3 separate regions of the Homo sapiens genome follow, and all the other regions are linked to region 1. The links come from fine-mapping of genetic effects on gene expression. A gene starts in region 1. Each other region holds a variant in brackets. All regions are shown on one strand. Distances are between the middles of the regions. Region 1 holds the start of ROCK2 (Rho associated coiled-coil containing protein kinase 2). Region 2 holds the start of LINC00570 (long intergenic non-protein coding RNA 570). Region 3 overlaps ROCK2 (Rho associated coiled-coil containing protein kinase 2).

Evidence for each region. PIP is the estimated chance that this variant, and not a neighbour inherited with it, causes the effect.
Region 2: its variant is fine-mapped to the expression of ROCK2 in cerebellum (GTEx, PIP above 0.99). The same link has a PIP of 0.9 or more in cerebellar hemisphere.
Region 3: its variant is fine-mapped to the expression of ROCK2 in whole blood (TOPMed, PIP above 0.99).

What each region holds. Positions count from the first base shown.
Region 1 is chr2:11,340,183-11,348,366 of GRCh38, forward strand. It overlaps ROCK2 (Rho associated coiled-coil containing protein kinase 2), which reads right to left and starts at 4,454. Exons shown (of 33, transcript NM_004850.5): 1 at 3,814-4,454. The coding sequence starts at 3,954. It overlaps LOC124907733 (a long non-coding RNA gene), which reads left to right and starts at 5,330. Exons shown (of 2, transcript XR_007086216.1): 1 at 5,330-5,507. RefSeq lists silencers at 3,769-4,498, 4,639-4,708, 4,779-4,938.
Region 2 is chr2:11,393,512-11,401,695 of GRCh38, forward strand. LINC00570 (long intergenic non-protein coding RNA 570) reads left to right here and starts at 470. Exons shown (of 3, transcript NR_047499.1): 1 at 470-660; 2 at 6,861-6,946. The variant T/C (reference allele first, on the strand shown) is at 3,815.
Region 3 is chr2:11,216,957-11,225,140 of GRCh38, forward strand. ROCK2 (Rho associated coiled-coil containing protein kinase 2) reads right to left here. Exons shown (of 33, transcript NM_004850.5): 7 at 7,366-7,504; 8 at 5,127-5,218; 9 at 4,242-4,401; 10 at 2,010-2,070; 11 at 1,499-1,510; 12 at 134-213. Among named protein-coding and RNA genes, the nearest start is that of SLC66A3, 66 kb to the left of the region's middle. The variant T/C (reference allele first, on the strand shown) is at 4,841.

The DNA.
Region 1 (8,184 bases):
TATACTGTGTACTCCCAAAAATGCTCTTGAAAATCTGGGCAACACCCTGAAATCAAATACATTCATATTCCTCCAGCAAAAGGCATTATTATTTACATCAAGAGGAATGACTAGACCACAAGTATTCTAATGTGAGATTAGGTCAGATGTTATCATCAAATACATTTTACCAAAAACTGGGTTTTTTATATATCAAAATTGTGGATAAGGGATTGCGGACCTGCACTTGCTTCACATCAACAGTAAGTTCCACACATCACCTTTTTTTTAAAACCTCCCTAGCTAACTCATTTTCTTTAAATATCTCCTATCAACATGAAAGTTTTAAAGTAAACTAGTCACAAATTTTACACTATAAATGCCAAACTCTTCATAAAGAAAAAAATGTATAAAATGATTTTTAATTTTTATTCTATTTCATTTTTATTGTATCTTTATAATGTTCTTACTTATTACATGATGGGAAAAATACACATACAATTTTATTTTAACTAGGCAAATAACCAGCAGCATGCTGAAAGAGTCTAAGCACTGAGATAATATTGTCAGATAGTTTACAAGTATAATGAAATCAATCAAATTATTTTATGTTTTATGCCACTGAAAATTGTAAACAAAGTTTTAATCACCTTTGCCCATCCACACAAGTCTTAAGTAAGAGTTTACCCAAGCGTGAGTCCTACAGGTTATTGTGACTGTTTACTCTTTGAAAGAGTAAAATAAATCAACACTCAAAAAGCACAGACCTTTAGAAAAATATCTCTTCAGCAAAGCCTGAAACACAGTTCTTTTTACCATAATAGGTAAGCAGTATGAGAAGCTGGTCTTGACAACAAAGCATAGGTATTTACCCAAAGGTTTCAAACACTACAAAAGCATATTACTGAAGACTCGCCTCCAAAAAAAAAAAGAGGCAGTAGAGAAGCAAAACTCTAAGTAATACTAAGCGGCTCACAATCTGCAACCATAAAAGAGATATACTCTTCTCAGATTAATTTAAGGACCCACATAAAGCCATGAGCCTTTGCAGAGAAACAAGATGTCATCTTTACACTGATTTAGTCTTGGAATCCAGCTCTACCTATGCCTAATGATTGCTAGCACTTTTCTGATGACAAATTCAAATGATAATGCTACTCACTCAAAATTATGTAGCAAGAAATAGTTGCAAATAAAACCATTTTCCTTTGAAAAGAAAATTTAAAGCAGTTAACTAATAACATGCTAAGTGTGCACAGGAGAAGTGAACTAAATTTAATGAGCACTGTGATGTACCAAGCACTAGGCTAAGCACTTTACACGTTATCTCATAAAACTTTGTTTCCTACAGAGTTTTACCTTCTAGGCCTAGCCCACTGAAAGCATCATACAATCATTTCTGGTGTACTTCATCTTCTTTTGTCATCTTAGGTATATACTATTTTTAATGGTACTTTCTGAGCTCCTGAATGTAGTGTCGCAGCTGTGTTTGCTTTAAATTATATTCCTTTAAATTTTCTGTTAAAGACAAAATATGTATTTCCCATGGCAAAACCAAAAAATAAATGTCATAGGCAGTAAAACAATGACCAATAGTGAAATGCAACCTAAATGCTAAGGTTTCAGATCTTTAAAGTGATACCAGCCATTATTTCGTCAGTATTTCAGGAAATATAATTTTTATAACATTCTTTTAAACATTAATTTACAGTTTCAGTTTGGAAAAATGAAAAGATTCCAGAGACGGATAGTGGTGATGGCTGCACAACAATGTGAATGTATTTAATGCCTGCCACTAACCTGTACACTTAAAAATGGTTAAAAATGGTAAATTCTGTATACGCTACCACAATAAAAAATCCATTCTAGTAGTTCATAAATAAAATACGCGTAATTTAAAATTAATTTATTATAAAAAAATTTTTAAATTTCGTTTATCAATTTGTAACAGAAACACCAGGAACCTTGCTCCAAAGGAATAAGGGACGCATTTTGGCTTGGAAAGGTTTACTGCACCTCAAGCATATTTAACCAACTAGAAACAGCAATAACAGAGTCTGTCAAGTCATCAGCACCTGATGTCAATTCTCAGATCCGTAATGTGCCACCTTAATAAAAGTGTGTTTTGGCTGTAATAACTGCTAAATGAATGAACTGTGTCCTGAACATGTGAGATGTTTCACTTTTAAAAATAGCCTCCATTTTAATAATTTGGAAAGCAATAAAACAAAATGCATGATCATATTACATGTATAAGCTACTTACATTCAAGCTCAGAATAACTCTAATAATTATGATTAATATCATTAAAGATCTAAGATATCAAAGTGAATTGCAAAACGTTTCCATCTAGGATTTAGCATGAACCTGATGAATACTTGAGATTTGCTGTACTATTTTTAACTAAACTTTCTGGCCTTAGGTCAAAGTTTTGCTAGCAAAATACCAAAGTGAAAATGCTGGGAGTGCAGCCCAGAGTCTCCGCTTTAGCCTAGGAAAAGCTATGCCATCCATGCAAGCAATCTTACTCCCGATTAAAGACTTTCAAAGACTGCTCCCATTAAAACATAGGAACAACACATTAACCCGAAAAACAGTAAAACATCAAACACATGTGACACAATATAGCACATCATTCATTACTTTCTGTACACTGTGCAGAAAGACACTATATAGCTAAAGTCAGTTCCTGCATTTTGACCAAACAGGACTGAGTCACTCTGCAAACGATGCCTGAAACCTCAAAGGATAACCAACCGCCTCTGACCAAAAGCCAGTCCGTCCGTCCCTGGAAAGGGAGGAGGCAGTTTTTCTCATCATACAGTAAGGTTTATTCCAGGAGGGAATAGAACTAAACATCTGCATTCCAGCACAGAATGTCTAACGGATCTAAGGACCTCCCACCCTAGTTCTAGTCTTCCAGAGTCAATTTAATACACAGAGTATCGTTTTCACCTTTCTTCCCCTCCCCAGGGTAAAAGTCCACACCCCCTTTTCCCATAAATGCATCTACACTGCACACTACTCAAATTGCGAAATACAATCATCTATCCTAACAAAAATAAGAAATAAGCCAGCATTCTACGGTGCATTTCTATTTTGTAAAACATGCTCCTTTCTTAACCAAGAGCCAATTAGCAGCCTTTACGGTGCTATTAATCTGGATTTCAAAGGTCGTTATAGGAAAGAGACGCAATGAAGAGGACAGATTTATTCCACTCCACAATTCAGACTGATTTTTTGGCTCTGGCGCAATAATCTCAGGGAATTAAATTTACAGCAATTAAAATGCACTAAATAGCAAGTATGGAATGCTCAAACGCAAGTGAAAACAGCAAAACTTTAGCTGTGTGTTCCAAGATTTCAGACTAAAAGGAGAGAGTGAGGGCGGCTCTTTGTCATGTACCCCAGTGAGTACTCGCAACAGGGACAGCATCAGGTTTCTTTCTCCCTCGCTCGCACCAAGTCCCCACGTAGCATGACACTTTCAAATCAGCTAACCTGGTGTATGAAGCATGGCCAGTCCTCCACCCACCTCCCCAGAGTGGGCAGGCGGAAGGAGAAGAGGGGTGTTTTCCTCCCAGTGCTGCAAGAAAGGAGCAGCCGGGGATGACACTGGCTCCAGCAGGAGGTAGAGGGAGGAATCAAAGGCGGGTCACTACTCTTGGAACTCGGTGACAGAATCGTTTGGTCTCCGGCCCCGGCTGCCGGAAGCAGGGCGGGGTGGGGCAAGACCTCCCCCTCCCCACGGGCGGACGGGCACGGAGGGCTGGGCGGAGAGGGGATCTGAGGTGTGAGCTGCAACGAGCAAGCTCCCAGGCCCCGGCCACCTACCAGCAAGCTCTCCACGTTGATGGGGGAGCGAGGGTCTCGGATCAGCGCCTCCAGCTTCCTCTGGCGGCTCGCGCCTGCCCCGTCCCCCGGCGCGGTCTCGGGGGCGCCGGGCATTTTCCCCGTCGGCGGGGGCCGGCTCATGCCGCCACCGCTGGACCCGCACTCAGGCTCCTCGCGCTCAGGTCCCGCAGCCTCGGGGCCTAGCACCGCCCCCGAACCACCAGCTCCGGCCGGGACTCCACCCGGGCCCACCGCCTGCCTCTAGCTCCGGCTTCGGGTCTCCAAGGCGGTCCCCCGCCTGGGGGCTGCTCCCAGGGGCCCGCCCGGCCCAGCCCGGCCCAGCCCGGCCCGGCCCTGCCGGGAGCGGCGGGGAACAGACGGCGTCCCCGCCCCTCAGTCAGATTCGCGCCGCCGGTCCGCTGGTCCTCAGCGAGTGCCCGCAGGAGTCCTCGGGCGGGAGCAGGGAAGTGGCGCCGCCACCGCCGCGGCCCGGACCGCCCCGCCCTCTGGGGCCCCGGGAGGCTGAAGCCCAGGCCTGGGCCACTACGGCCGCCGCCGGCCCGCTGCCATGGTCGCCGCCGGCCGCCTTGCAGTCCCTCAGCCAGCTCCCGGCGCACACACTCCCGCGCGGCCGCCCGTCTCCGGCCGCGCGCCGCCGCTACCCACAAGCCCCTCCGCCCGCAGCCGCCGGCGCGCGTCCCCGCCGGCCCTGCGCGCGCTCCGCCCCGCCCCGCCCCGCGCACCGCGCTTCCTCCCTTTCTTTCCCTTCCTGCGTCTGTCCCGCTCCGCTTTCTCCTCTGCGCCCCTTCCTCGCCCGCCCTCGCCTCCTCCCCCTGGCGAGGTTCTCTGAGGCGAATAGCCGGGCGCGCGGTCACGGCCGAGCTCCTGCTGGGGGAGGGGAGACGCACCCAGGCCGGGTCCTTCCGCGCGCCCCCTGCCCCTCCCGCCGGACCCCGCGGACTACCCCGCGGCCCCGAGGCGGAACCCCAGACGCCGGGCCCAGCGCACCGTGCGCTGGGGGGGAGCCCGGCCGCGCCCCCCGCCGCGGCCCCCGCTGACTCAGCGCGCAGCTATGCGGGCCTCGCCTCACCCGCGCCCAAATAATAGCGACCGAGCTCGGCGCCCGCGAGGGGCCGCAGGGCCGGGGGTTTCGAGGCGAGCCTGAGAGGGGGCCCTGGGTGTCTGGGATTCCGAATTAGCGGAGGCGGGTGGAATCCTAGTCCTGGGGCAGGAGGGCCTGGGATCCTGAAAGCGTTTCTGCCCGGCTTAGACACTAACCACTTCAAGAGAACGGGAGAGCACCGGAAAAAGGCTTTCCAGCCGCAGGCCTTCGCGGGGTCTTCTCCTTTTGGGGGGCGGAAGAGGGGTGGTTATCGGGACCGTTCCGCCGCATTCCTGCCCTCTCGGCGGCCGGTGCCATCGCTTAGATCCGCCCAGGGCGCAATCCGAAAATTATGTGCCAAGAGCTATAAAACCGTTCATAGAGCCCCTTTGACCCAGTAAACCCATTTAAGGAAGTACATTTCCAAGGAAATGATCCAAAGGGCGAAGAAGGGGGAGAACTTGCAGAAAGATGTTAACAGCAGGGCTATTCACAATGTTCGTGATGACCAAAACCTGGGAATGGGCCCAGTTGTCCAACAATTGAGTAACCCAAACAGGCGCCTTCACATTAACAGCAAGAATCCTGGCAGGTATGCAGACTGTGTCAAACATGAAATTTTGGCAAGTACATGAGAAGGTATATTAGAAATAAATGAAACAAAAAAAATCGTTTGTACACACTAAAACTATGTAAAATGAGCAGCTATAAGAACCAGAGAATACAGTACTTCTTAAATAAATGGGATTTTTTTCTGTAAAGATACTTAAGAACAAATTAAATTTCAAAAAATGGAAAAACCACTCCGAAAAGCAACAATCTGATATCCATTAAGTAATAAGAATGTTAAGAACTGTCTCCCTGGCATGTCAGAGATAAACCCGAAGATAGGGTGAAGCCCCAGCCCTGTAAAAGTTGCATTTTGATCCAAACCATTGGATTAGTTGGAGCCTCTTCTTTGGTTTTAGGTTAGTTAAAACCACCCCTAGCTGGACTCATGCAGGAAGAGGCCCCGATGATCCATCCAATGCAGCTTTTCCCTTTCAGATAGTAACACTGACTTCACATCCAGAGAGTCCTTTAAGTCTGTGTATTGAGCTACTCATTCAGACCTCCACAGAGGCCACCAGGAGAACAGAGGGAGCTAGACACTCCCACTTATGCATTGGAGCAAAATAATGAGATAATCTATGATTATGGATTATTTTTCTGATGACAAAATAATATGCAAGGCAAAAGGAGCACTCTGTCTAGCGGGGCGTGGTGGCCTGTGCCTGTAGTCCCAGCTCCCCCTGAGGCTGAGTTGGAGGCCTCCTCCATTGAGCCCAGGAGGCCAAGGCTGCAGTGAGCTGTGATCACACCGCTGCACTCCAGCCTGGGCAACAGAGTGAGATTGTCTCAAAAAAAAAAAAAAAAAAACACTGTGGTTCTCAGTTTCCAAATTAATTTTGACTGGTTGTATATTTGTATGTAGCTTGGTGGAATAACAGGAAGCCATGGTCCAAATACCGAACATGAAAACCTTATTTTAAGAGTAGTGATCAACAAGATATATATCCTGGGCATGTTCTACATATACTTATTTATATAGACCAGAAAAAGCCATGGTACAGAAGATTTTTACCCAAGACCTATCCCATTGTCTACCTGGAAGAAGAGAAAATGAATCTGTTGATATGAGTTAAACCTTTTTGCAGGATGGGGTAAGGGTAAGGAGGAGGTTAGTACAACAATTCTTGTTTTCAAAAGTAATGCACAAATGCATTCTTGTAAAAGTTCAAACGAACCAGAAATATATGGAACATAATCTAAAATTTACTGTTCTGACTATATTTCCACATACATTCTTATATCACTCAAGGCCTTTGGCCATTCTCATACATATGTATTATAGATACATGTTACCTTTTCCCCACAGACATGAAATTATACCATATCATGGTGTTTGGCAACTTGGTTTTTTCCCTTCATTACTAATATGTCCTAGAGGCGTGTCCATGTCTATAGGCAGAGATCTGCTTCATTCCGCTTACCTGCTGTCCTCTACTCCCCAGTTTGGATGTGCCACACTGTAATTATTCTCTATTCGAGAGCATAGTGGTTAAGAAACAATTGCCAAAATCCTGCCCCAAACACACACTTGCCATGTGACCCTGAGCAAGTTACCTAACTCCTCTGTGTCTCGGGGTCCTCACAATATTTGTTATAAAGTGCTTAGAAATGTGCTGGCCCTCAATCAATGCTAGATATTATTAATATTTTCTCACTGTTAAAATGATCCATTGACATCCTCGTATCCTCATATTTGAATAGTATAGATTCCTAAAAGTGGAATTGTCATAACAAAGGGTAGGCATACTGTAAATACAGATGCTGCCAACCTGTTATTTATTTATTTATTGGAGGCAGGTTTACATTCTGTCCTTCAGGCTGGAGTGCAGTGGCACGAGAGATCTTGGCTCACTGCAACCTCCACCTCTAGGGCTCCAGCAGTCCTCCCACTTCAGCCTCCTGAGTAGCTGGAACTGCAAGCACACAACACCATGCCTGGCTAATTTTTGTATTTTTTGTAGAGACAGGATTTTGCCTTGTTGCCCAGGCTGTTCTCTAAGTCCTGAGCTCAAGCGATCCACTCACCTCAGCCTCCCAAAGTGCTGGGATTACAGGGGTGAGTCACAGAGCCGGGCCTCAACCTGGCCTTTAAAAAGACGCTACCCGTTTACATTCTCAGCGTGAGTAGAAGAAACTGCCCATGTCCCTTCACCTTTCCCAGTATTCAATATTATATTTTTAATTGTTGTCAATAAAATGGGCAAAAAACGCCATCTTGTTCTGACTTGTATTCCCTTAATTACTACTGAAGATAGGCATTTTGTCTATCTATTTCTTCTGCAATTACCTGTTTATATCTTTTATCCATTAGTTTTGTCTCTTTTTATTATTTATAAGAGCTCCTTATGTATTTTGGATATTCCTTTTTGTTATATTATAATAGAATATATTAAAATATGTTACAGTTTGTGAAGATTTTTTTCCAGTCTGTTGCTTGTCATTCAGTTTTGTTTTTTACCTGTTATGCGGTCAAATCGGTTGATATTGTCCTCTACAGCTTCTGGGTTCTGTATCTGTGTTAAGGAGGATTTCCAACCCAGTTTTTAGGTCACACAGAATACTGGAATTGCAACAGGTTATGAGGAAATGGCAGTTTCCTAATATTCTCAGCTCAGCTCATCCCAAATTAGCTGTGGAAGGGGGTTCCCTGGGCTTGC
Region 2 (8,184 bases), 53 kb after region 1:
GATTCTCTGTTTCTTCAGGGTGGACCTAAGAATCCCTGGATTCAGTGATCTTGGGATTCTTTCTGCTCTAAGACGCAACGCTTTTGGGGTTGTTAACAGCCTTGATTAGCAAAGGAATGTTCATGGCCCATGGCTAAAGATAAGTGATAAATCAGGTGCCCTTAGTGGCCATCCTGAACTTGGATTAGACTCCGACTCTGCACAGAGACCTTTCATGCAGGGCTGGACTATTTCAGGAAATCAGAACCACAGATATGTAATCCTTCCCTACTCTCCTCCTTGTCTCTGTTGGTGACGTCAGGCTTCAGCTACACTAGCCGTTAACTGAGGTCCGAGGGTCCTGGCCTGGGATCCGGAGCCCCTAACTGCCTGTTCTGCCTTCCTGCAAAAGCTGGTTGTTTGGGCCAGTTGGTTTTTGGTTTCTGTGCGGCCACTCCCACCCCCACCCCAGCTCCCTGACCACGGGCTGCGGAAGAGTGGGACGTTATGGAACCTTCTCAGCTTATTCAGAGAGGCTTCTTCTTCCTATTTAGTCTCCCTCTGGCTTTCCCTGCTGGGATCTGGGTGGTAGAAGCAGCAGGGGGATCAACGAACAGGCTGAGCGCCAAGAAGCCTGAAGATTCCAGAATCTAGCGGGAAAAGCATTCAGAGTCAGAATGAGTAAGCAACTTCATCTCCTGGCCTTTACTTTTCTGTAAAACAGAGGCAATTCTATCTCCCTCATGGATGTGATAAAATAATACTTTGACTAGTAATAATAATATTCATTCAGGAGTGGATCTGGGTGTTGTGGGGCCTGAAGCTTATTCAGTGTGGAGGGTCCTTTTTAAGAAAGAAGAATACAAATTTACAAACACATCAAATATAAAAGGGGATATTTACTTAGGAGAAAAAAATCACAACAAATTACAATTAAAAAGAAAAACTGGGCCAGGCACAGTGGCTCATGCCTATAATCCCAACACTTCAGGAGGTGGAGACGGGCAGATCACTTGAGTCCAGGAATTCCAGACCAGCCTGGGCAACGTGGTGAAACTCCACCTCTATAAAAAATGCAAAAATTAGCCAGGCGTGGTAGCACACGCCTGTAGTCCCAGCTACTCAGGAGGCTGAGGTGCGAGGATCACCTGAGCTTGAGAGGTTGAGGCTGCAGTGAGCTGTGATCACGCCACTGTGCTCCAGCCTGAGTAACAGAGTGAGATCCTGTCTCAAGAAAAAAGAAAAAAGAAAAACTGAACAAATACTACAAATATCACAAAATCTAGAAAAATAATGTACTACATTTTATTAATTGTCTTCTATGCTTCTAATACCTTTTTCCTACATTTTTTGGCTGCATGCATTTTAGTAGCTTCTTCCTATGGCAATGGTTTTGTGGTAGTATTTTCTGTTTCTATAAAGAGATTATAAAGTTAATTCAGTCTTTTCCTTAGCACAGTTGGTCAAAATTTGTTTTTTATTATTGATGGCTTCAACTAGGTATCAATGACAAGCAAATTCTCTGCTTGCAATTGCCATTACATATTCATGATTGGAAGCATTTCCTTCAACCTTGCCCTGCCTTGCTTCATCCCCACAAACCCATCCTTTTACAGCCAGAATGCATTTGTTTCAGTGTGACTTTGAGCACTGCACTTTCTGTCATGATGCCTGGTGAGTGGGCACCACAGGCCTCAGGAGGATTTCTAGAAACCACTCTTCCACCAGGATGGCTAGCAACAAGCTGATGAAAGTGATTTTGAAATGCATCAGTATATCCCATTTACCCAAATAAATGAATCTCCAGGCCAGGCCTACTCCTAACAAATGCATAGCCCAGGACGAGACTAGAAAGGAGGTCCCCTTTTCATATGTTTAAAATAAATTCCTGAAAGTCATCAATCACGCTAACAAACCGTTAAATACACTGTGTCCCATCCTTCTACCCTGACAATTTGAAAGGCCAGATTCAAATTTAGAATTCTCAGAATCCTGGGTTCCATCGGGAATGTGTTGTGTGGGGAAAGCTGGCCCTGCCCCCTGGCTGGCTGCCGGTTCTCCTTCTCCAGGAGGAAGCACTTTGCAGCCTGAGGGCTGTGGCACGTGTGTGGATAGCCCAGGCTCATGGCTAAGATCGACCATTCCCGTGTACACAGCATTTTGGCAGCCCCTCAGGCCTGGGGTTGCACACCAGTGTGAGCCGGCCTTTGGGAGGACGTGGGCAGCGGTCCTGACGGGCCCTGGTAGCATGACTGATGTTGGCAAGGGTCTCTGGGCCTGGAGTATCAATCCAGGTCTTCTGATAAGCAGATCCAGGAATGGAATTGGGGATGCAAGAGGGTTCCTGAGGAGAGACATTTTTGAAAGATAAAAAGTGACAGAGGAGGGTTGGTTGGGGAAGGCTTCAGATCACAATGCTGATCTGAAATGTGTCGAGGGCAAAAATGGGCAGGGAGAGCCCCACACTGTCCTGGAGATCATTTACAATGTGGTCAACCCGATGGGCAGTTCTGGTGCAGACTGCCCATCAGAGGGGTCCTGCTTTGGGCATAGAAAGCTCCCAGCATGCTCACTGCTGGCCGGGCCGCCCAGGAGGGGCTGTAGTGAATTGTGAAGGGGCTTCAGCTGGATGCTGCCAGCTAACTACTCTCCTTGCCGCTGACCAGCAAGTTCCTTCTGGAAGGGAGATCTGAGCCACACTCCTCCCTGACTGCCACGGTGCACAATAGCCAGATTGGCTTTAGTAAGTGGGAGTTCATGCTGCTGGGCCCATATGTCATCTCTGCTTCTGCCAGTTCATAGCTCATGGCATATGCTAGCTGACATCCGTGGCTGAGCTATTTTGCCTACTTGGCTATTTCGTGCCCCTTTCGTGACTAACGCTTTCAGGTAGTTGATATATAATGCAAAGATCACCATTCTTTATGTCAATTTCCATATATCCATGAACTGCCTCTCCCCCAGACCTCCTGGTCTCTGATCATTCATTCTTCTAGGCTGGCCCCTGACCAGTCTGCCAAGTCAGGTGATAAGGTGAACTCTTGCCACTGCCATGAGTTCAGATTTTTTTCACCTTTGGCAAAGATTCCTTCCACACAAAGTGCATGACCAGGGACAATGCTGGAATCCCCCTGATCAGAAGGGTTTCCCCTGGCCACTGTCTTTAGCACTCTGTCCCTGAGTGTCGCTGTAAGGCAGCTGCTCTCCAGTTTCTGCTTGTTTCCGCACACAGCACCCAGCCAAACCATCTGCAAATTAAATTCAGGCCCTTTCTCCACTCTCAGCCGGGTATAGAAGGCACCCCCGCCCACTCCCACCGACGGGATGGCCATGGGGGTGTGCTGAGGGAGGGGTGATGGTGCAGCTGTGGCAGATGACATGGGGTCTGGGACACCTGCTCATACAACTTCCTTGTGCTCCCTCACCCCCAGCTCAGGCTTCATCCCAGGTGAACCTTTTCCATCACTCTGTGAGAGCCCAGATCATGCTGGGTATTTCTAGATGCATTCACTTAGATCCCCTGGGCAACTCTCCCATTCCCATCAGGGCTCAATAACACACCGAGAGCTGCTTTTCGAAAAGCATGTATTCTCTGCTGCAGATGGCATGGCCTTGCTCCGGGCCCCCAGGAGCCTGTGTTGTGATGCTCCCATGGCGGCTTGTCATTAGCTCTACACTGCATCCTCCTCCACCATTGACACCTCCAGCACCGCAGGGACTGCTGGATCAAATGGCCCAAGCGGCAGGGCTGCCTGCACCACAGCCTGAACCTGCTGCAGGCCCCACTCTGCTCTTGGCCACTCAGAGCTGGCAGCCTTCCATGTCACTTACCAGA[T/C]GGTCTGGAATAGCCTTCGTTAAGTGTGGAGTGTATTGCCTCTAGAACCCAAGAGGCGTATCAGGCATCGTGCCTCCTTCTTTGCAATAGGGGTTATAAAATGCAGCAATTTGTCTTTTACTTTGGAGAGGATGCCCTGGCATGCCCCTGATCACTTCATCCCTAAAAACTTTATTGATATGCCAGTCTCTGAATCTTCATAGAGTTTCTTCCCCACCCTCAAGAGCACATGTACTTTACCAAGTCCTCTACAGGCCAGCTACTTCTTTCTCATCCTGCCAAATTAGAAAGATGTCATCAATTTCATGGATCAATATGATGCTCTGTGGGATGCCCAAACAATCCAGATCTCTCTAGACTATGTTAAGACAGAAAGCAAGTGAGTGAGTCAAAGAGCCCTGGGGCAAAACTGTAAATATGTGTTGTCTGTTCCATGTGAATGCAGAATATTTCTGATTCTCTTTTCTGATCAGGATAAAAAAGAATGCACTCATTAAATCAATGGCCGTAGTAATCTGCTCTGGCAAAGATACTACATTGGTCGTGGTAACTGGGGCTATTACTATTTGGGTTTGTGGTGGTCCACAGTTCTCCGGGTTCCCTCTGGTTCCTGCAGGGGCCAGTTTGGTCAACTAAATAGAAATACGGGGGAGACCTCCAGCCATGCCTCCTTGAGTTCCATAAGGGTGGCATTAATCTCTAGCAGCCCCCAGGATGCGATATTGTTTGTATTTTCCTCTCTTGGCTGAGGTTCAGGGTGGGAGTAGTATCAAGAGTTTTCACTTGGCTTTCCCCAGTATGACAGCTTTTACTCTACAGGCCAAAAACCCAATGTGCGAGTTTTTCCAATGCCAATTATACGTTCAGGGACTGAGAAAATGACCTTAGGATGGATCCACGGAGCCAGTGGACCCACTCTCAGCTGGACTTCAGCCAGCACTCGCTTTCTTCCCTGGCTTTTTGCACGGCCCTACTCTAAGAGATGGGCTAGGAGGAGTCTTCGGATCTCTGGATGTCAATGTCAATTCAGATCTTCAGATAGTCCTTCAAATAGCTGAGCAACCCTCTTTCCCCAGCAAAAAGTCACTCTAGTAAATGGTCATAGGTCCTGTTGTTTATCTGAAATCTCTACTTTAAAAACTGTCATGTCACAGGATTCTTTCTCCTGGGTACCCAGCCACCTCTTCAGTCAATAGTTCTCCGTTCTGGAAACCGACTCCAGTCAGGGGCTGTGTCTCATGCCTGTAATCCCAGCTACTCGGCAGGCTGAGTTGGGAGACTCGTTTGAGCCCAGGAGATCGAAACCAACCTGGGCAATGTAGTGAGAGCCCGTCTCAAAAAAAACAAATAAATAAAATGACATTGAGTAAACTAAAAAGTCATATTTTTCAAAAAGCTAACTCCAGTCCAGTTTATATATACACACGTAAATACACACACACACACACACACACACACAGCAGTCCACGTATGGGCCGCCCCTCACTAGCATTGCTGTATTCTGTCAACATCTCCTTCACTCTGGAAGTCAAGCCCTGTTGGCTGCCACTCCAGCCTTGCCAGTTGTTACAATGGGTGTGACCTTCTGGCTCCCGGCGATTAAGCACTTACCATGTGCCTCTCCTGCTTCAGGGCACCACGCCAGCCTATAAGCAGCCGCAGGGGTTGAGCCCTGCAGAGCCCCAGAGGCAGAGCTGCCCAAGGCTTTGGGAGCCCACCTCTTGCATCACTGTGCCCTGGATGTGAGACGTGGAATCAAGGAGATTATTTTGGAGCTTTAAGACGTAATGGCACCCTGCTGGGTTTCAGACTTGAGTGGAGCCTGCAGCCTTTCTTTCGGCCGGTTTCTCCCTTTTGGAACGGGAGTATTTACCCAATGCCTGTACCCCCATGGTACGTTGGAAGTAACTAATTGTTTTTGATTTTACAGGTTCATAGGTGGAAGGGACTAACTAGCCTTGTCTCAGATGAGACTTTGGACTGTGGACTTTTGAGCTAATGCTGGAATGAGTTAAGACTTTGGGGAAGGAACAGTTGAGAAGGCATGATTGGATTTTGCAATGTGAGAAGGACATGAGATTTGGGAGCGGCCGGGGTGGAATGATACCGTTTGGATCTGTATGGATCTGTGTCTCCATCCACATCTCATGTCAAACTGTAATCCTCAATGTTGGCGGAGGAGCCTGGTGGGAGGCGATTGGATCATGGGGGCAGGTTCTCATGAATGCGTTAGCACCGTCTCCCCAGTGCGGCTCTCATGATAGAGTTCTCACAAGATCTGGTTGTCTAAAAGTGTGTAGCACCTCCTCCCCCTCTCTCTCTCTTCCTCCTGCTCTGGCATGTAAGACGTGCCCGTGTCCCCTTCCTCCACCACAAGATTGTAAGTTTTCTGGAGCCTCCCCAGAAGCTGAGAAGAAGCTGCTATGCTTCCTGTTCAGCCTGCAGAACCGTGAGCCAATTAAACCTCTTTTCTTTATAAATTACCCAGTCTCAGGTAGTTCTTTATAGAAGTATGAGAATGAACTAATAAACCTGGTCTTAAGCCCCACCCTGATCAACACCCTCCCTGCCTGGACCCCCCTTAGCGCCCACTGGTCTATGGCAGTCCACTCTTGCAGCACCTTTGGGGGCTCTTGCTTTCCTCCCTTATCAAGCCTAGCCTGTCCCCAGCTGGGTTATGCTGCCATTTAATCCTACTTATTGGCTTTGCAGCCAGGAAAGGAGATGGGGGCAGATCCTGAGGGGGGCCCTGCTATCGTGTAGGGGAGAGACCTCTACAGGGTGGGGAAAGGGCTGACTCTTGAGAGAAGTGGCAATCCCTGCCAGCACTGAGGGCTCAGAGGGGTCTTGGGAACCAAAGTCATCAGGGGCATCCGCCACCTGGGTCTTCCCATCAGAGCAATTTCCCAAGTCAGCATCACTGAAAGCATAGCAATTGGGTTGCTGTGTCATCCTAGGCACCCCTCTGTGCCTCCCAGACCACCTGGGATGGAGCCCTCATGCTAGCTGATCAAGGTGCCACGCCCTCTCTTTATTGTTTTCTCAGGCCACTTCCAGCATCGATGGTGTCAGGTCAGGTCCTCTGGGTAGAAGAAATGGAGTCAGTTAGGAGTGCTGGAGACTGAGTAAGAGGTAAGCCTTGTTAACGTGATAGGAGGATGAAGCAGGATTGGGCAGAAAAAGACTTCATATCCCAATGCCAATCTGAACCTGTGAAAGGAACTAGAGAAGGAGCAGAGTAAGCAGGTAGAGGCTCAGAGTGAGATGCCATCTGATGAAACCTGGTCCAACCCAATAGGGAGCTATAGTGAAAGACTGCCCATGAGAAGGCTCTCCCACTGGCAGAGCTGGCCAGCCACTAGGATTCCTGCTGTGGTCCCTCTTTAGCTGAAGGCTGCCTGGTGGAAGTGTGGCCTTGACTCAGACAGTGTGGCAGATCCTGATGCTGTTCTAGCTGGAGGTCTCAGCTAACTGCAGCCCTTGCTGCTGACAGCATGCTCTTCTTTTTTTTTTTCCTGTGGTTTTTTTTTTTTTTTTTTTTTTTTTTTTTGAGACAGAGTCTCTCTCTGTTGCCAGGCTGGAGTGCAGTGGCGCAATCTCGACTCACTGCAACCTCTGCCTCCCGGCTTCAAGTGATTCTCCTGCCTCAGCCTCCCAAGTAGCTGGGACTGCAGGTGTGCACCACCAGGCCCAGGTAATTTTTGTATTTTTAGTAGAGATGGGGTTTCACCATGTTGGCCAGGCTGGTCTCGATCTCTTGACCTTATGATCTGCCCACCTCAGCCTCCCAGAGTGCTGGGATTACAGGCGTGAGACACTGCACCCAGTCCCTCATGCTCTTCTTCAAGGAAGCTCTGAGAGGCAGATTCCCATGGCTGCCGCACCTGAGGAGTAGCCTGGAAGAGGGTGAAGCTCCCTTTGGCCCTGTAGACTCCTTGCCCTTAGGGTAGAAATGCAGCTAGAGAAGGACAAGAGAGGAGCTTCTGAAAGTAGAGGGTGTGCACTGCCCTAGTCCAGGCTGAGGATGTTACTGTGTAGACCCAGTTCGACTTCCCTTCGGCTAAAGCCCCAAAGAGCCGCATCACCACCCAATACAAGCAGATGTGTGGTGGAAACGAAGTCTGAGTGGGAGATGTGGGCTTCAGGAATTGTTAAAATATTATATCTTGATTTTTGCATATTTTTTAAAAACATGCTGCGCCGGGCACGGTGGCTCACGCCTGTAATCCCAGTACTTTGGGAGGCCCAGGCGGGCGGATCACGAGGTCAGGAGATCGAGACCATCCTAGCTAACACGGTGAAACCCTGTCTCTACTAAAAATACAAAAAATTAGCCGGGCGTGGTGGTGGGTGCCTGTAGTCCCAGCTAC
Region 3 (8,184 bases), 120 kb before region 1:
CGTGATCCACCCACCTCGGCCTCCCAAAGTGCTGGGATTACAGGTGTGAGCCACCACACCTGGCCGCTCTTTTTTCAGTAAATGTTTAAACTTAAATTTTATAATGTAATATTTAATTATCTACAAAACATACTTGCACTTCTGTTCCAGTTCCTCTTTGGCTTGCATCTCATTGCTAAGATGTTCTTCTAATGTATACAGTTTTTTCTGAATCTGTCAAAAAACAAGAAACTGTAATTACGTATTTTGGTCATATTTAAAGATGAGAGGCTTAAAGAAAACAATGATAAGCTTATTTTGTCTTTCCACTAAACATAATGTCCTCTATAATGGTACAGTATTTGTACCTCCTTAATGTGACTTATATTGATAAAAGGAAAAACTCCCCCATCTCTTGCTTTCTATCAGAGTACACATGTATATATGAAACATACTTATGTAACCATGCATAAGAAGCTCTAACTTTGGCAGAATTGTTCTATGACACAAAGTTTCAAATTCATTATAAAGAATACCACCTCAGATATCTTCTGCTGCTTTTCTATGAATTATTTGCTTGAAAATATTGTCATTATTTGTGCTAGTCGGATAAAAATGAATACATCTAAAACAAATATTCAGAGTACTCAACTGAATATGCTCAAAGTAAAGAATATAAGCTCTTCTTTTATATCTTCCTATGTAGTGCTGGTCATATTACCGAGGAGTAATCAATAACTTTCGAATAAATGATAGCTAATTAATTACAAGCCAGCTCCTCAGCAGCTTTCCCTAGCTATGTAAGTCTTTAAACAAGCAAAAATTACCGAAACTATTAAATAATCCATTTTTGGAACATTATTTACTTTTTAAAGGATTTAACTTTTTGAGCTCCTGTGGTGCCTTTGGTAAAATATCAGGCACTTTACAAATGTTGTCTTGTTAATATTAACAAAAATCCTACAAAGATGGTAGCATTGTATCTACTTGATACAGAAAATGAAATTCAAAAAAGGTAAATAATCAGGCCAAGATGGCATAGCTAATAAGTCGCAGTGGCAAAAATCAATGCAGGTCTATTAGACTCCCATGGCAATGTACTTTCCATTATTCCTTCTAGTGATCAGGTTCTCCATGGTTTTAAATACTGCATCTATCTTAAGCAAAACTCTGTTTTCCCTTAATAAAAATATACAGGCTAATGAACTAGTCAAGTTTAATTGCTTTTGGCTACTACTGCATTACAATAATTTGAGCACACCAGTTATTATATGCTAATCAGAAATTTTTGCTGCCAGTTATATGTCCTTGATAAATAAAAACAAAATTACATAATATATATTTTAAACAGATCCACAGAACAATAATAAAAGAGATACTTGGTAGAAGAAAGGTTGGGAACTTCTCTCTTGGGTAGATGTAGTACTCCAAATGCTAGGTAGGATATGACTATATTTAAACTTTGCGAGAGTGATGAGCTTTTCTCAGTTTTTCAATATATCTGACAACATCAACATACCTCTTGACTTTCCTATTTAAAACAAAACAGAAAACACATTAAAATACTAAAATGATGGTTATATTCTGTAAAATTCCTAAAACACAAACCATAACAAAATTATCCAACCTAATGCTTTAGCTTTCATAAGTTTGAAGAAAAAATGTTTAGCATCATCATTTATGTGTATGTGTATATCCATGTATGATTTAGCTTTGCATTCATTTACAAATTATAGAAGTCAATTTTCTAAATGTTATTATAGTTGTTTACAAACTTATTCTATCACTTTTGGCACTCAATTAAGCCTAAAGCCATGTAGAAGTCCTCTTTGTACTAGCCATCATGTCTTGAATAATGATACTATTCACATAAATCAATCATTGCAATGCTATGTTAAACTGTATTACACAAGGAATGCCATCTCATGATTTTAAAAGGAGCATCAAATTAGCTTTTTAAAAACATGGGGATTACTAAAATATTTAAACATGAAACTAAAATAACTACAGCAGTAAAAATGTATACGTACTTCATTTTTCCTTGATTGTATGGAATCAGTTTCTCTACAAGATGGAGAGTCACTTAATAATCTACATGGAAGGGGGGAGAAAATAAATTTTTTCATTTCATTTTAATCTATGTGCTGTTTTATTCAAGTTATTCTCAGACTTAAATATCAAACACAGATTTCTCTCTTTTCCCTTCAACACATTATTTACAAATGAAGCAATATTTTTCCCTCAAGACATTTGTATCATTTTCAATAATTTAAAATGCTAGGGCCAGGCGTGGTGGTTCACACCTATAATCCCAGCACTTTGGGAGGTCAAGGCGGGAAAGATCACCTGAGGTCAGGAGTTCGAGACCAGTGTGATCAACATGGTGAAACCTTATCTCTACAAAAAAAAAAAAAAAAAAAAAAAAATTAGCCGGGCATGGTGGTGGACACCTGTAGTACCAGCTACTCGGGAGGCTGAGGCATGAGAATTGCTGGAACCCGGGAGGTGGAGGTTGCAGTGAGCTGAGATCGCACCACTGCACTCTAGCCTGGGCGACGAAGTGAGACTCCATCTCAATCCATCCATCAATCAATCAATCAAATGCTAAACTTTTCTTGCCTTTCCCTCTTACGGGATAACTAGTCTTTAATTTTGTTTGCACCAGACTCACTAAATGAAACTATACTTCCCACCTCTTCATCTTATTATCTCATTTTTCTTTCTTTTTTTAATCTGTCACCCAGGCTGGAGTATAGCGGTACAATCATAGCTCCCTGCAGCCTCGAACTCCTGGGCTTCTCAAATATCTTTAATGCCTCATTCAACTATTGAACAGCTTTCAGTGGCTTCCCAATGCCAGGCGGTCAAAAGCCCCTTAGCAGAGCACACAACAATCATCTGTTGATTATTCTTCCCCAAAACTCACTTTTTTTTTTTTTTTTTTTAAGACATGGTCTCATTCTGTCGCCCAGGCTGGAACAGCTCATTCCAACCTTGAACTCCTGGCCTCAAGTGATCCTTTCATCTCAGCCTCTGAGTACCTGGGATTACAGGCGCAAACCACCACATCTGGCTTTTTTGTTGTTGTTGTTGTTGTTGAGATGGAGTTTCGCTCTTGTTGCCCAGGCTGGCGTGCAATGGCACGATCTCGTTTCAACCACAATCTCCACCTCCTGGGTTCAAGCGATTCTCCTGCCTCAACCTCCAGAGTAGCTGGGATTACAGGCATGTGCCACCATGCCCAGCTAATTTTGTATTTTTTAGTAGAGACGGGGTTTCTCTATGTCGGTCAGGCTGGTCTTGAACTCCCGACCTCAGGTGATCTGCCCACCTCAGCCTCCAAAGTGCTGGGATTACAGGCATGAGCCACCGTACCCGGCTTTTTTTTTCTTTTGTAAAGACAGGGTTCCACTTTGTTGCCTAGGCTGGTCTAGAACTCCTGGGCTCAAGCTATCCTCCCATCTCAGCCTCCCAAAGTGCTAGGATTACATGTGTGAATCACCACACCTGGCCTCAACATATTTTCTAATCTTACATCCAATACTCACTTCAGTTAACCAATATTTATTGAATGATCTTGTGTCAGACTTTCTGCTAGATGCAGAGACTACAGGCAAGAAAACCACATAGTCTCATCGAGTCCTCCAAACTGTAATGACATAGTAGCACCTGCTCTATGTTTGAGTGCTACTGGACTCAATGCGAGTGCTCTGCTCCCAATGTATGCTCACATTCCAAACATTTGCTTCCACTATTCAACACCTCACAACTGTCCCCTAACCTCCCCACATTTCAGCCACTCAAAACCTTTTCTTGTTAGACTTGGCTAAAATGCCACCTCTTCCCAGAGGTCTGACCTATTTCTCCCTACTCCCACCCCAAAGAGATGACTTCTATTTTTCTTCTGAACCATCCCAGATTCTCTCAGCATCTTTCTTAAGGCAACTGTCACATTTTACCCTTCTTTATGACTATATAATTCTCTTATATCCTTCACGAGATGACAAGCTTCTTCAAAAATAGGTATTTGTTTTTACTGTATATCCCCAAAAGAATGTAGAATGGTGTCTTGCAATAACTTATAAATGAATAACATATAACATTCAGAAATAATAAAATAAAATTAAGAATTCTTCTGATGATAGTCCTTTTGGAAAAAACAAATTAATACTTTATCTCCTATAATTGAGTCTCAAAATAACACATCATCTTATAGCTAGATTCTAAAAACAGTAAAATTTAACAAATAATAAACCACATACAAATTTTCTCTATAGTAGGTAAATCCGATGAAAGGCAGCTGATTTCCAACAAAAGCTTTAGGAATTGGGAAGGTTTCTACATCTCCTTTGTCATCTTCAATGTCATCGAAATTGCTGCTGTCTATGTCACTGCTGAGTTCAGGTACTACAGGAGCTGCCGCTATTAAAAGAAAAGAAATAAATTATTTCATTCACAACCAAAATATATAAACCATCCTATTTTATTATGATGTATTATTTATTATTTAATAACACTATATAAATTTGTAGCAGCGCATTTGCCATTTTATCGATTCACAGAATTAAAATTTTGTAATTTATTGCTATATTAGATCACTTTTAAATATAGATTAAACAAGGAAAGCAACATATTATTCTAGTTGTTAAAAATTACAAGCAGCAATAATTTGCACAGAATTTAGAGACCTCCATTTTCTACAATCTCGAAACAGAAATATTTCTTACCCTTAAAATGAATCAATGTCATATATACATAGTAAAAATAAGTTACTATGCTTACAGCAATATTTAGCAGAGTATGGTCTCCATAAATAATTGTTGATTTATCAAGTCAAACGCATTTAAATTAAAGGATTGCA[T/C]TCCCTTGATTCTGAAAATTATTGAGATCTACAAAGCTTAACTTGGCAAATTAAGAAATGTGTAATGTTTATTGTAAAAGTGTTGAGAAATATTGCTAATAGTTTGCAAAGATATTGAGGAATATTGTTATAAATATTGCCACAGAACAAATTTGAAATGAAATTTCTCAATTTAAAAATGAGTTAGCATTAAGTGTTATCAAATATGCTTGTTATTTCAAAAAAGGAATCAACTTATGAGTTTCAGAATGTGATGGAATGAAAATATTTAGGTTTATTGACTTACTTTCTCTTATGTTATCCCAATGCCACTGATCATTCTTAAAGAAAGGATGCTGTCTGATTTCTTCCACCCCATTTCTCCCAAGTCGTACCTCCCTAAACAATGCAGTTAAAGATTGTATTATTTAAAAATTATAAAATAAAAAGATTAACTCTATGTCAACAGTTTAACCAAAATAAAGATCTCAAGTAAATTTGAGATATTTGTATTAAAAGCTTCAGCTTAAATGTTTCTCAAAAATAAGCAATCCCAAGTTACAGTATGTGATCTCTTTAGACAGATTTAAAAAACTGTAATGCACAATAAATGTCATGAAAAGTAAAATGTTTCTGTCTATAGTTTGCATCAAATGAAAGTACGTTAAGACTATCAAGTAAAAAAATTCACCTGCATGTGCCACGACTGAATGACAATAACTTCAGGATATAAACAGACATAGGTCTAACTTTCGGCAGAGAAGAGTTATTCAAAACTTCCCTAATAGAAATATTATTTTAAAAATCTCTCCCTTTCCTAAAAAGAATGCATATATTATGTTTGAAGCTATCCATATTTATTCTGGTAAAGTATATCTCTACATGTATATTAAACTTATCATTCTGCATATATGAAAAATGTTACAAAGAATTTCATTCTTTGACCCTCTGAGTCTTCAATGAAGACTGTATGGAAATAGAGAGCATCTGTGTTATACAAGGCCCTGGAGCTATGTTTAACATAAATAGGAAAACTGTAGACCTTAAGGGGAAGTGCTCCTAGCCATATTTACGGCATTAACTCGTTTTCAAAATATCAGTTTTCCACCTATAATCATTCCTTAGATTGCACACCCCTGCCCCATGACTACTAATTCAAAACTTTCATGAATAACACTCCTTTCATTAACATAAAACAGGTGTACCCTGTTGTACAATTTATCATCCAGCACAAATTATGGCCATCCCTACCAATCCTGCTCAGTGCCCACATCAAACATCATACAGGCTGTGTTCTTCTTCCACCCTATCCTCTTAGAAAGAGGCGTCTCTCCTTCTTTTCAAAGATAACATCTCCTCATCTCCAGGTCTTAATATATAAATCGTCATTTCCATTTTACTTTGAGTTTATCAGCACCAACTGCTCGTCAACCATGTAATTGACAGGTATTAAAGTTTTATTCTACAAATGACTGACAAATAAAAATAATTATCCTCTTTGATGAAAAAAAGAAAAAACATTTTACAATGTTCAGTTTGACGAGAAGAAAACAATTTTGTTAATGGAAATACATACTGCTGTAACTTCTCTGGGGATCAATTTTGTAACATCACTTAAGTTTAAAATGTGTATCCCAGAATTCCACCTTTAAGATTTTATCCTATAAAAAGTATGCAGAGATGAATGTGTGAGGATAGTCACTGCAGTAATGCTTGTAACAAATTAATAAGCAATAAGATGTGCTAAGGAATCTTAGCATATTAAAGCTAGAAATGCCCTTAGTTTTGTAATTTGAGACCACTGTTTTATGGATGAGTAAAATTATTTCCCAAAAAAGTAAAAATAATTTCCCCAAGATCATAAAGCTGATGTGTAAGTTTGAACGAGGGTGTGAGCATCCTCTTGTATATGTTGGTCCTTTGACAGGATGACTCCTATCACAAATATAAAACGGGACATTAGAAAAAAATGGAATGGGGTGAACAAAGAAGAGAAATCAAATAGTTTTCTAGCTTATCTTTTGGGGGCAGGTTTTCACACCTTTGTTCATCTATTTTGTTTTTAAAAGTATGGAATTTCCAGGATAGTCTTGCTCATATTCAAATGCAAATTAAAAAGGGTTGGGAAGGAAGCACTCCCAAGTCTAACACAAATAGTTTTTAAGATTATAACCTGTTGAGTATTTATCTACACAAAATACTCTCAAAAGTTATATAAGAGTAATATGGAATAACCAGCTTGGAGGATAAAATGTGAACAACACGAAAGTTTTATTTCTTTCAAATCCATTGTTTTACCACGTTCTATTTTTTCCTTTTTAGACATGAGGGTTAAGGTTAGAGTTCGATTACAACTGGGCTGTACACACATAACAACAAGGTAGCCCAACACCAGGCTTAGCAGAAGGAAAAGGCTAACCCAGAATTAGATGCTACTTGGGTAATGAGAGGCAGACTGATTTCATATGTTAATAAGCTAGGCATGCTTTTATTTCTATAAATTTAACATAAAGGGCTTCTCTACAAAGAAATTCAATGTACATTACCTATCTGTTAAGAAAGCACAGATGAGATTCTTTGCATGTTTGGAAATTTCTGCATCTTCAGGGAAACACAGTGAATTCTTATGATCCATAATTTTGCTATATGTTCCTACAAGTGAATCCGCATAAAATGGAGTATCCCCTAAAATTTCAAGAAAGAAGATACTGAATGTAACAGAGAATGCAAAGGAAACACTTTTCACCTAGTACTTAAATATGTTAAGTTTAAATTTGTCACATGCAGGGAAGAACAAATATTCTACGGGCACAGAGTCCCAGTCAAAACAACAGACATATTGTTATATTCTAAATCAAAGAATATATTTAAAATTTAACACCACCAATGATCCCTCATCCCTTAAAAGCAAAATAAAATCAATGATAACTCCCGAATTTGTTGAGTTTTTTTTTTTTTTAATTTAAGAGAGGAAATGTTTTACTGAATAGTCCAAGAGAAAGAGTTCCTATGTGGGGTCAGATCAGTCAGGGTCCTTTAATGCTTGGGCTGGATCAGCATTTTGAAATCATTCTCTAGAGATATGTTATACAACACAGTTGCCACTAGCTATAGGTGGCAATTTAAAGTTAAAATGAATTAAATAAAATGAAAAACACAATTCCCTAGTTATACTAGCCACATTTTAAGTCATGTTGTAACCAATGGTCACCACACTGGACAGCACAGATTTAAATCATTTACATCATGATAGGCCAGACAGGGCTGCTGCAAGAGTTAAACCAGCTCTATTATTTTACATAAGAGGAAGTCAGGCCCAGAGAGACAGACTGTGACTAGCTTAAAATGACATATAGCTAGAGTTG